Linked DNA regions of Homo sapiens: all the other regions are linked to region 1. Evidence: fine-mapped expression QTL. A gene starts in region 1. Each other region holds a variant in brackets. All regions are shown on one strand. Distances are from middle to middle.

Region 1 (2,763 bases):
CTCGGCTCACTACAAGATCCGCCTTCCAGGTTCACGCGATTCTTGTGCGTCAGCCTCCGGAGTAGCTGGGACTACAGGCGCCTGTCTCCACGCCCGGCTAATTTTTTTTGTGTGTGTGTATTTTTAGTAGAGACGGGGTTTCACCGTGTTAGCCAGGATGGCCTCGATCTCCAGACCTCGTGATTCGCCCGCCTCGGCCTCCCAAAGTGCTGGGATTACAGGCGTGAGCCACCGCGCCCGACCTGTCCCTTGACTTTTTTACTGTCCTGAGATGCCAGGCTTATGTGGGCGGTGTGTTCCCAGCAGAAGATGATCCCGTGGAAGTCCCGGGGGATGAAGGTTAGGTTAGTCCCAGTGCCAGCCTTTGGTAGAAACTCAGGACCTGATAGGTAGAAAGGCGACGAAGAGAGCCTGCTCTTCTTCAAGTTCTACTTTTGCCATCCTAATTCCCCTCGCTCTAAGGATAAAACCAAGCTTGATGAAGCCGCCTTAAAACTGCCCCTTCAAGTGGGAGCCCTCATCTCATTTTTATCCAGGAAAGAGCCCAGAGCATCTGCCGCGGCCTGTAGGCTCTTCTCTGCCAGGCTGGCTTCCGAAATTTCACGGTGGCGGGTACCTTAAGGCCACTCGGCCGGGCAACTGGCAGGAAGATGAAGGTGGGCTTTAAGGAGGAGCACAGCTATGCCCATCTCAGACTCTGGAGACCCGAACGAACTCTAATCTGAATGTGTGACCTTGGGCAAATCACTTACCCTCCCCAGGCCTCGGTTCCCTTATCTGCAAAGTAAAGGTAGCCCTAAAGTCCCCGCCAGGTGTGAATGGGACTTTAAGTCCATCAGGCAGGATGTTGATGGCACTGCGCCAGGGCCCCGGGTCGGCGTGGGGCGGGGGCGCGCCAACGCGGGGCCGGCACCGAGGACTGGGTGGCCCGGGAGAAAAGCGGCGACTGCGCGGCTGCGCGGGGGACGGTGCACACAGTGCTGCGCCCCCCGCCTCTTGGCTCGCTGCCGCGGCCCGGGGGCCACGAGGTTACGTAAGGAGCCGGGCGGGGGTAGCGGCTGGGGAGGGCGGGGCGGGCACCGCCCCAGCGCGGCCGCCCAGCCCCCGCCCGCCCGCGCCTGGCGGCGGTGGCGGCAGTGGCAGCAGTGGCAGCCGCGCAGCCCCGCGGAATGGAGCGGCGCCGGGGCTGAGCCGGGCGCGCACGGGCCGCCGCATGTGCCGCGCGGGGAGCGGCTGCCGAGCGGGCGGAGAGCGAGCGCGAGAGGCCCCGTCGGAGCGGCCGCCGGAGCAGCGCCGGAGATGGGGTGAGTGAGCCCGCGCCGCGCGCTCTCCGCGCGCCCCTCCGGAGGGACTGCGGGGCCGCGGCTGGCGTAACCGGGCTCGGAGCCTCCCGGCGGGCCGGCCCCCGCCTCCCCAAGCCGGAGCGAGCGCACACTCTGCGCCCGGGAGTCTGGGGCCACCTGACCCGCGCCCTCCGCCGGGGCACGCGGACACCCAGCAGGGGCACCCTGGCCTGGGCGCGGAGCCCGTGGCCCTTCCCCTCCCATACAGCCCGGGCACGGGGGCACCTGACGGGGACCGGTGCCCTGGCCGGCCTCCTGCCTCGGCCATTCCGCGGTCTCTTCGCCCCTGGGCGCAGTCAACTCCAGGGCCTGTGTGAGTCTAAGCAGTTTGTCGTTCTCCACGTTTGGATTTATTACAAGCAAAATGGAAATCGAAGTTTTCCTGGAAATAATCAAATAATAATAAACCTCCAGCGTAGGAATAGTGGACTTTGGATCTGCTTTGAGATGCTGAAGATGATGGAAGTCTATAAGGAACCTAGGTGAGGCTTCAGTCTTTGAAACAACTGAGTAGATGCTCAGGAGGGAAGTTGAAATACTCTGTCGAAGTGACTAATGCTTCTGAGTATATAAAGTAATTTAAGCTTTCCCCTCGGCGTCTCTCTGAGCAGTAGGCTCTGTGAGTCTGGGAGCCACTGTGCTAATAGCACAATAACTCCTTACATCTGCTCACTCTATTTGGGCACACGTTGACGGTTTGCCATACGTATTCAGGGGACACTTATGTCCACTTTACAGATGAGGAAACTGAGGCACAAAGTGGTTCGGTGACTTCCCCCAGGCTGTGTAGTTGATGAGCATTTGTGTAGCAGGGGTGGCCTTGCCACTGCCTGACGTGGGCATGGAGGCGGGTAAGTGAACCAGAATTCCTAAATCTCTCTGTTCCCTGCTGCTGAACCCAGCATTCTTCCAACAGCCCTTCGCAGGACTCAAATGCTTCTGCTCCAAGGGTCTAGAGATCTTGCTTTCCTGTTTGGGATGGGTGGGGCCTGGGAAGGCAAGAGTGCAGTGGAAGGAGCAAGATTGTCCTGGTGCCCTGGCTCAGCCCCCCTGGGTCAGTGGCTTTCTTGCACCGTACTCCAGGTTAAGTTTCTGGAGTCATTTTGCCTGGTGAGTCTTAGCCATGGGAGCTGCAGAGTGTGTGAGGGGATCAGAGGCAGGCCAAGAGGAATTTTGAGGAATGGAAGTGTGAGGGCTGTGGGCCAACATGAACTGGACATGACAGAGGTGGGTGACAGAGAGGAGGAGGCGAGATGAGCAGCGAGGGCTGAAGAAGTGTGCTTACATTTAGGAGATTTCACATGAACAGCAACTGTGGGTGATTTTACCCAGAGGCACCCAAGTTGGCAGGCCGTATTTCTGTAACATTTCCAGTGAGTCCTCAGTGGACTGTGAAAAGGCTGATCTTTGAGCAGTGAGA
Region 2 (2,763 bases), 23 kb before region 1:
GAGGCTGAGGCAGAATTGCTTGAACCCTGGAGGCAGAGGTTGCAGTAAGCCAAGATCACGCCATTGTACTCCAGCCTGGGCAACAAGAGCAAAACTCTGTCTCAAAAAAAAAAAAAAAAAACCACACACAAATCTTAAGATCTAATCGTACTAATTGTAGAGTCAACCAGAAGATAGTTATGATGGTAATATATGCAGTATATAAAATAGTGTGGCCTCATGCCTGTAATCCTAGCACTTTGGGAAGCCGAGGCGGGTGGATCACCTGAGGTCAGGAGTTCGAGACCAGCCTGGCCAACAATGGCAAAACCCTGTGTCTACCAAAAATACAAAAATTAGCTGGGTGTGGTGGTGGGTGACTGTAATCCCAACTACTTGGGAGGCTAAGGCAGGAGCATCGCTTGAACCCGGGGTGCGGAGGTTGCAATGAGCTGAGATTGCACCACTGCACTCCAGCCTGGGCGACAGAGCGGACTCCGTCTCAAAAATAAATAAATAAATAAATAAATAAATAGTGCATGATAATCTAATGGGATGCAGGGAGAGATAATTGCAACTAGATATATAAGTATAGAGGTACTTCAGGGTAAAGGAAGAATAAGAGGAAAGTGAAATTAACCCTGAGAAATTTACTGAAGAAGGTGATTCTGCAACAAGCATATACACGGAGTGCGTGCACACACACACTATGTGGATTGCCAGAAGTGAGCTCCTGTGAGGAATATGGATTCTTGGGTGCAGAGGATGCAGACTGACCATTCTTTTTAAATTTATTTTATTTAAAATTTTTTTAATTTTAATTTATATGGGTTCATGGTGTATATATTTATGGGACACAGGAGATGCTTTGATACCGGCACACAATGCGAAATAAGAACATCATGGAGAATGGGGTATCTATCCCCTCAAGCATTTATCCTTTGTGTTACAAACAATCCAATTACACTCTTAGTTATTTTCAAATGTATGATTAAGTTATTATTTACTGTAGTCACTCTGTTGTGCTATCAAATAGTAGGTCTTACTCATTCTATTTTTGTTGTACTATTTAACTATCCCCACCTTCCTACCATGCCACTACCCTTCTTAGCCTCTGGTAATCATCCTTCTACTCTTTATCTCCATGAGTTCAATTGTTGTGATTTTTAGATCCTACAAGTAAGTGAGAACATGCAATGTTTGTCTTTCTGTGCCTGGCTTATTTCACTTAATGTAATGACCTC[C/G]TGTTCCATCTATGGTGTTGCAAATGACAGGACCTCATTCTTTTTTTACGGCTGAATAGTACTCCATTGTGTATATGTACCACACTTTGTTTATCCAATTGTCTGTTGATAGACACTTAGATTGCTTCCAAATTTTAGCTATTGTGAACCGTGCTGCAGCAAACATGAGAGTGTAGATATCTCTGATATGCTGATTTCCTTTCTTTTGGGTATATACCTAGCAGTGGGATTGCTGGATCATATGGTAGCTCTGTTTTTAGTTTTTTGAGGAACCTCCAAAATGTTCTCTATAGTGGTTGTACTAATTTACCTTCCCACCAACAATGTATGAGGCTTCCCTTTTCTCCACATCCTCACCAGCATTTATTGCCTGTCTTTTGGATATAAACCATTTTAACTGGGGTGAGATGATACCTCATTGTAGTTCTGATCTGCATTTCTCTGGTGATCAGTGATGTTGAGCACCTTTTCATATGCCTGTTTGCCATTTGTGTGTCTTTTTTTTCTTTTTGAGACAGTCTCTCTGTTGCCCAGGCTGGAGTGCAGTGGTGCAATCTTGGCTCACTGCAATCTCTGCCACCTGGGTTCACGTGATTCTCCTGCCTCAGCCTCCCGAGTAGCTGGGATTACAGGCGCCCACCACCACGCCCAGCTAATTTTTGTATGTTTAGTAGAGACAGGGTTTCACCATGTTGGCCAGGCTGGTGTCGAACTCCTGACCTCAGGCGATCCACCTGCCTCGGCCTCCCGAAGTGCTGGGATTACTGGTATGAGCCACCACGCCTGGCCTGTATGTCTTCTTTTAAGAAATGTCGGCTAGGCACAGTGGCTCACAGTGGGTCCTAATTCTCTTGTAGAATACTCTTCAGAGACAGACTCCAAGACTGCTGCATTTCCCTGTGGGGTGACTCACAGAGCTCTTTACTAGTCTTCTCTCCCAAGTGCCCCCAGGGAGCCCCTGTGCAATATCATCCCAGTCATATTTGGAATATGAACTGTGACCCTTACCTAGGGAAATATGTCTCTCTCCTCAGATTAGAGCATATTCATTCTAATTAGACATTGTCGTGTATTGACTCTGTTTTCACCATGGTAGGTAGAAGTCTGCCCCTCCCATAGGTGAGTGGAGAACCTTTGCTCTATGGAGACCTTTAGTATTTTTTTTTTTTTTTGAGATAGAGTTTTGCTCTTGTTGCCCAGGCGGGAGTGCAATGGCGCGATCTCGGCTCACTGCAACCTCCACCTCCCGGGTTCAAGCTGTTCTCCTGCCTCAGCCTCCCGAGTGGCTGGGACTACAGACACGTGCCACCACGGCTGGCTAATTTTGTATTTTTAGTAGAGATGGGTTTTCTCCATGTTGGTCATGCTGGTCTCGAACTCCTGACCTCAGGTGATCCACCCGCCTCTGCCTCCCAAAGTGCTGGGATTACAGGTGTGAGCTACCACGGCTGGCTGATCTTTAGTATTTTTAAGTGGGAAGGACATTGGCTTAATTTTTTCACCCAGGCTGGAGTGCAGTGGCACGATCTCTGTGCACTGC
Region 3 (2,763 bases), 280 kb before region 1:
AAAGCATAGAAAGGGGAATTTGAAGCTAGGAAACAATAGGTAAATAACTGGAACAGTTCTCTCTACTAAGCATTCATACACACTCTTCTGCTCATATTTTAAATTTCCAAGAAAAATAACAACTCCATGCCTCCACCTATCAAGACACAACCAAGAACAACAAAGAAGTTCTCATCCCCTTCCCCCAAAAAATAATAGGTAAACTCATAACAGTCCCCATATCCATCTCTGTGTGATGCTACTTTCTCTTCTAGTTTAGCTGGAATCCCATGAGAATCATTTGGAACCTAATTAGACTAAGAGTAACCCTTATCTAAAAAACAAGGGAGAAGTAGGGAGGAAAAATAATACATACAGATGTATATGTACATATCAAGCAAGGAAAAAATATACATAGCTGCTTCACCCCATTTCTGTACGTGGTACTGAAGCTGTAGTTGTTATATAGAGCTTCCTATCTCACTGTACATTTCAACCCCCTTTATCCTCAGCCAGTATCTCAACTGACCCAGATTCTTTGGAGTAGCCCAAACCTTCATTCCTGAAAGGTCTGATCCCCATTTGTCTTCATTTAGTTTTTCATTAGCTTTTTTTCTACTGGACATGGTACTAAGAGGTACCCTAGAGAATCTACTGAGCTTTATTATGTCTTAGCAACTAAATTCCCCTATGTAATTGGGATTACTCCAGCCAATACAATAACCTCCTTTGCCTGTTAGTTGAGAGACATACAAAGTCCAAAATGGCCAATGGTAGTCCCAACTCATAAATAAAAAATGTAAATCAATTATGTTCCCTCATGGAAGCATTCCTCCGTGGAGAACTAAGACTTCTAAGCCAGCAGAACCTTATCAAGGATAGGAAACAAAAATTCTGTGAGTGGGGCGTTAGGATATGCTCCCACTTCTGCACCTGCATCCCCAGACTTGAGTATTCTGGCTGTGGAAAAAATAGCACATATGTTGATTACTGGTTACACACACACACACACACAAACACACACACACACACACACACCCTGTAGAATATACCCCAAACCTAGAGTGTTGTCTTCCAATTTATACTGTAATTGTCTTTGGTAGGCTATTTCACTGTTCTCTCAGGCCACTGGTTTCTGGGTGTTTGGATATGTGGTACAACCAGTAAATGACATGGGCATGAGCCTCTGTGACTCTTCTATTTCTGTAAAATGAATTATTTAGTCAAAAGTGATGTATGAAATACTTTGGTGATGAATAAAGCATTCCATAAGTCTAGGGAGGATGGTGCTATCAGAAGCATTGCAGACAGAAAAGATAAGT[C/T]CATGTCCATATCAATTGATTATTCAATGGGAACAAATTATCACCCACTCCACATTGGGGATCAGCACTGGTCTGTGCTGCTGGGAGGTGAGACATGTAGCAATGGTTGCTGGATCATCTTTGGTGAGGGAAAGTCTATGCTGTTATGCCCATCCCTGCCATCATGGCCACTTTGAACATGAGCAATTGAGGAAACATTGGGTGGGAAAGGGGCTGGCTAACCTCCTCAGAGCATGTCTTCCTGTCTACATGATTATTCTATAGTAGGTGCCCTTGGTGAACATCCACATTGGACACAAATATCCTCACACTCTGTGCACTTTTAAATAGGTCCATCCCCATATCTCTTCCCTAGATCCCTTCTCACTGATTTGCCAATCTTATTTTTTCCAATGTCCCTGACCAACTGGCCAATTCTTTAACCCCTGCCCATGGGCCAATACAGATTCTCTCCTCTGAGTATTTCACATTGACCCAGTTGCCAGTGAAATGGACTGCTTGAAGTTCTGTTAGGTGAGACAATTTCTCTTCAACACTGTCTTTCAGGAATCCTTCTGAGGTTGTAATGCTACAGCAGTCTACTTCCTGTTCGTACAAGTATCATTAGGTTTCAGTTTTTCTTCCTAAGCCAATTGGTAATAAGGAATTCACCAGCAAATTATAGGACTACACAGAGGGAGAGGAACAGTGAAGCAGGGGTAGGTGTCATATGTAATTTCTTTGTGCCTTCAGGTTTGCTTAATTTTGATCCCTATTATACAATTTCTATTTAATTAATAATTGGTGCTGTGAATGCTCACCCTTATTGCTTAATGAATCAGATAACACCTAGTTCATAAGAGGAAACTAAGATTACGTGGTCTCTTGATGTTCCATGGTTAAACAATCTAGCTCTACAGGAACCCAGTCAGAGTTAGTTCTCAATTGGAGAATGAAGCATGACTTTGCTTTCAAATCCTAGAGACCTGCTCTGTTATTCTCCTTCAGGGCTTTTCAGGAGGCCTCACTGAACATCTCTTTGTGCCATAAACCTATAAAATACATCTGGCACAGAAGGTCCAAGTAGCAAAACAGCTTGTTACTACAGCTTGGACCTGATGCAGAGACTTTTCGTGTTTGGAGCCCCCTTCAAAACTATCAAGGTACTGAGTTGGAGCACACTCAAATATACCATACATTGACCTCCAGAAGCAAGTCAAGCATTAAAAAGGAAACCTCTTTTTTAATGGTAGAAAGTGCAATTAGAGTAACATGTCAATCCCTTTGGAAGAGATATTCCAACATGCTTTAGGCTCATGAACTTCCAAAAACCTCCCTAAGTCCCTGAATTTGTGTGGTTTTTATCTCCCACCTTTTGGCACACATGTGTCTTAATATGACATCTAGGATACTTGCTACTTCCTGGTCATCAGAACCAGTCATCATTGTATCATTGATGTAGTGGGCTATTTTTTTTTTTTTT

Which allele goes with the higher level. Alleles are on the strand shown, and positions count from the first base shown. SD is a standard deviation of normalised expression in the study named. Not every link is listed here.
For the expression in skeletal muscle of the gene that starts at base 1,115 in region 1, allele C in region 3 goes with a higher level than allele T (small effect, 0.31 SD a copy in GTEx).

What was found. PIP is the estimated chance that this variant, and not a neighbour inherited with it, causes the effect. A credible set is the group of variants that fine-mapping cannot tell apart.
Region 2: its variant is the best candidate, but not a certain one, in a credible set for the expression of HOMER2 in whole blood (INTERVAL, PIP 0.74).
Region 3: its variant is the best candidate, but not a certain one, in a credible set for the expression of HOMER2 in skeletal muscle (GTEx, PIP 0.64).

What each region holds. Positions count from the first base shown.
Region 1 is chr15:82,951,072-82,953,834 of GRCh38, reverse strand. It overlaps HOMER2 (homer scaffold protein 2), which reads left to right and starts at 1,115. Exons shown (of 9, transcript NM_004839.4): 1 at 1,115-1,304. The coding sequence starts at 1,300. RefSeq lists an enhancer at 1,365-1,865.
Region 2 is chr15:82,974,037-82,976,799 of GRCh38, reverse strand. It overlaps a transcript of HOMER2 not described here. Among named protein-coding and RNA genes, the nearest start is that of RAMAC, 11 kb to the left of the region's middle. The variant C/G (reference allele first, on the strand shown) is at 1,224.
Region 3 is chr15:83,233,531-83,236,293 of GRCh38, reverse strand. No RefSeq gene overlaps it. Among named protein-coding and RNA genes, the nearest start is that of HDGFL3, 27 kb to the right of the region's middle. The variant C/T (reference allele first, on the strand shown) is at 1,302.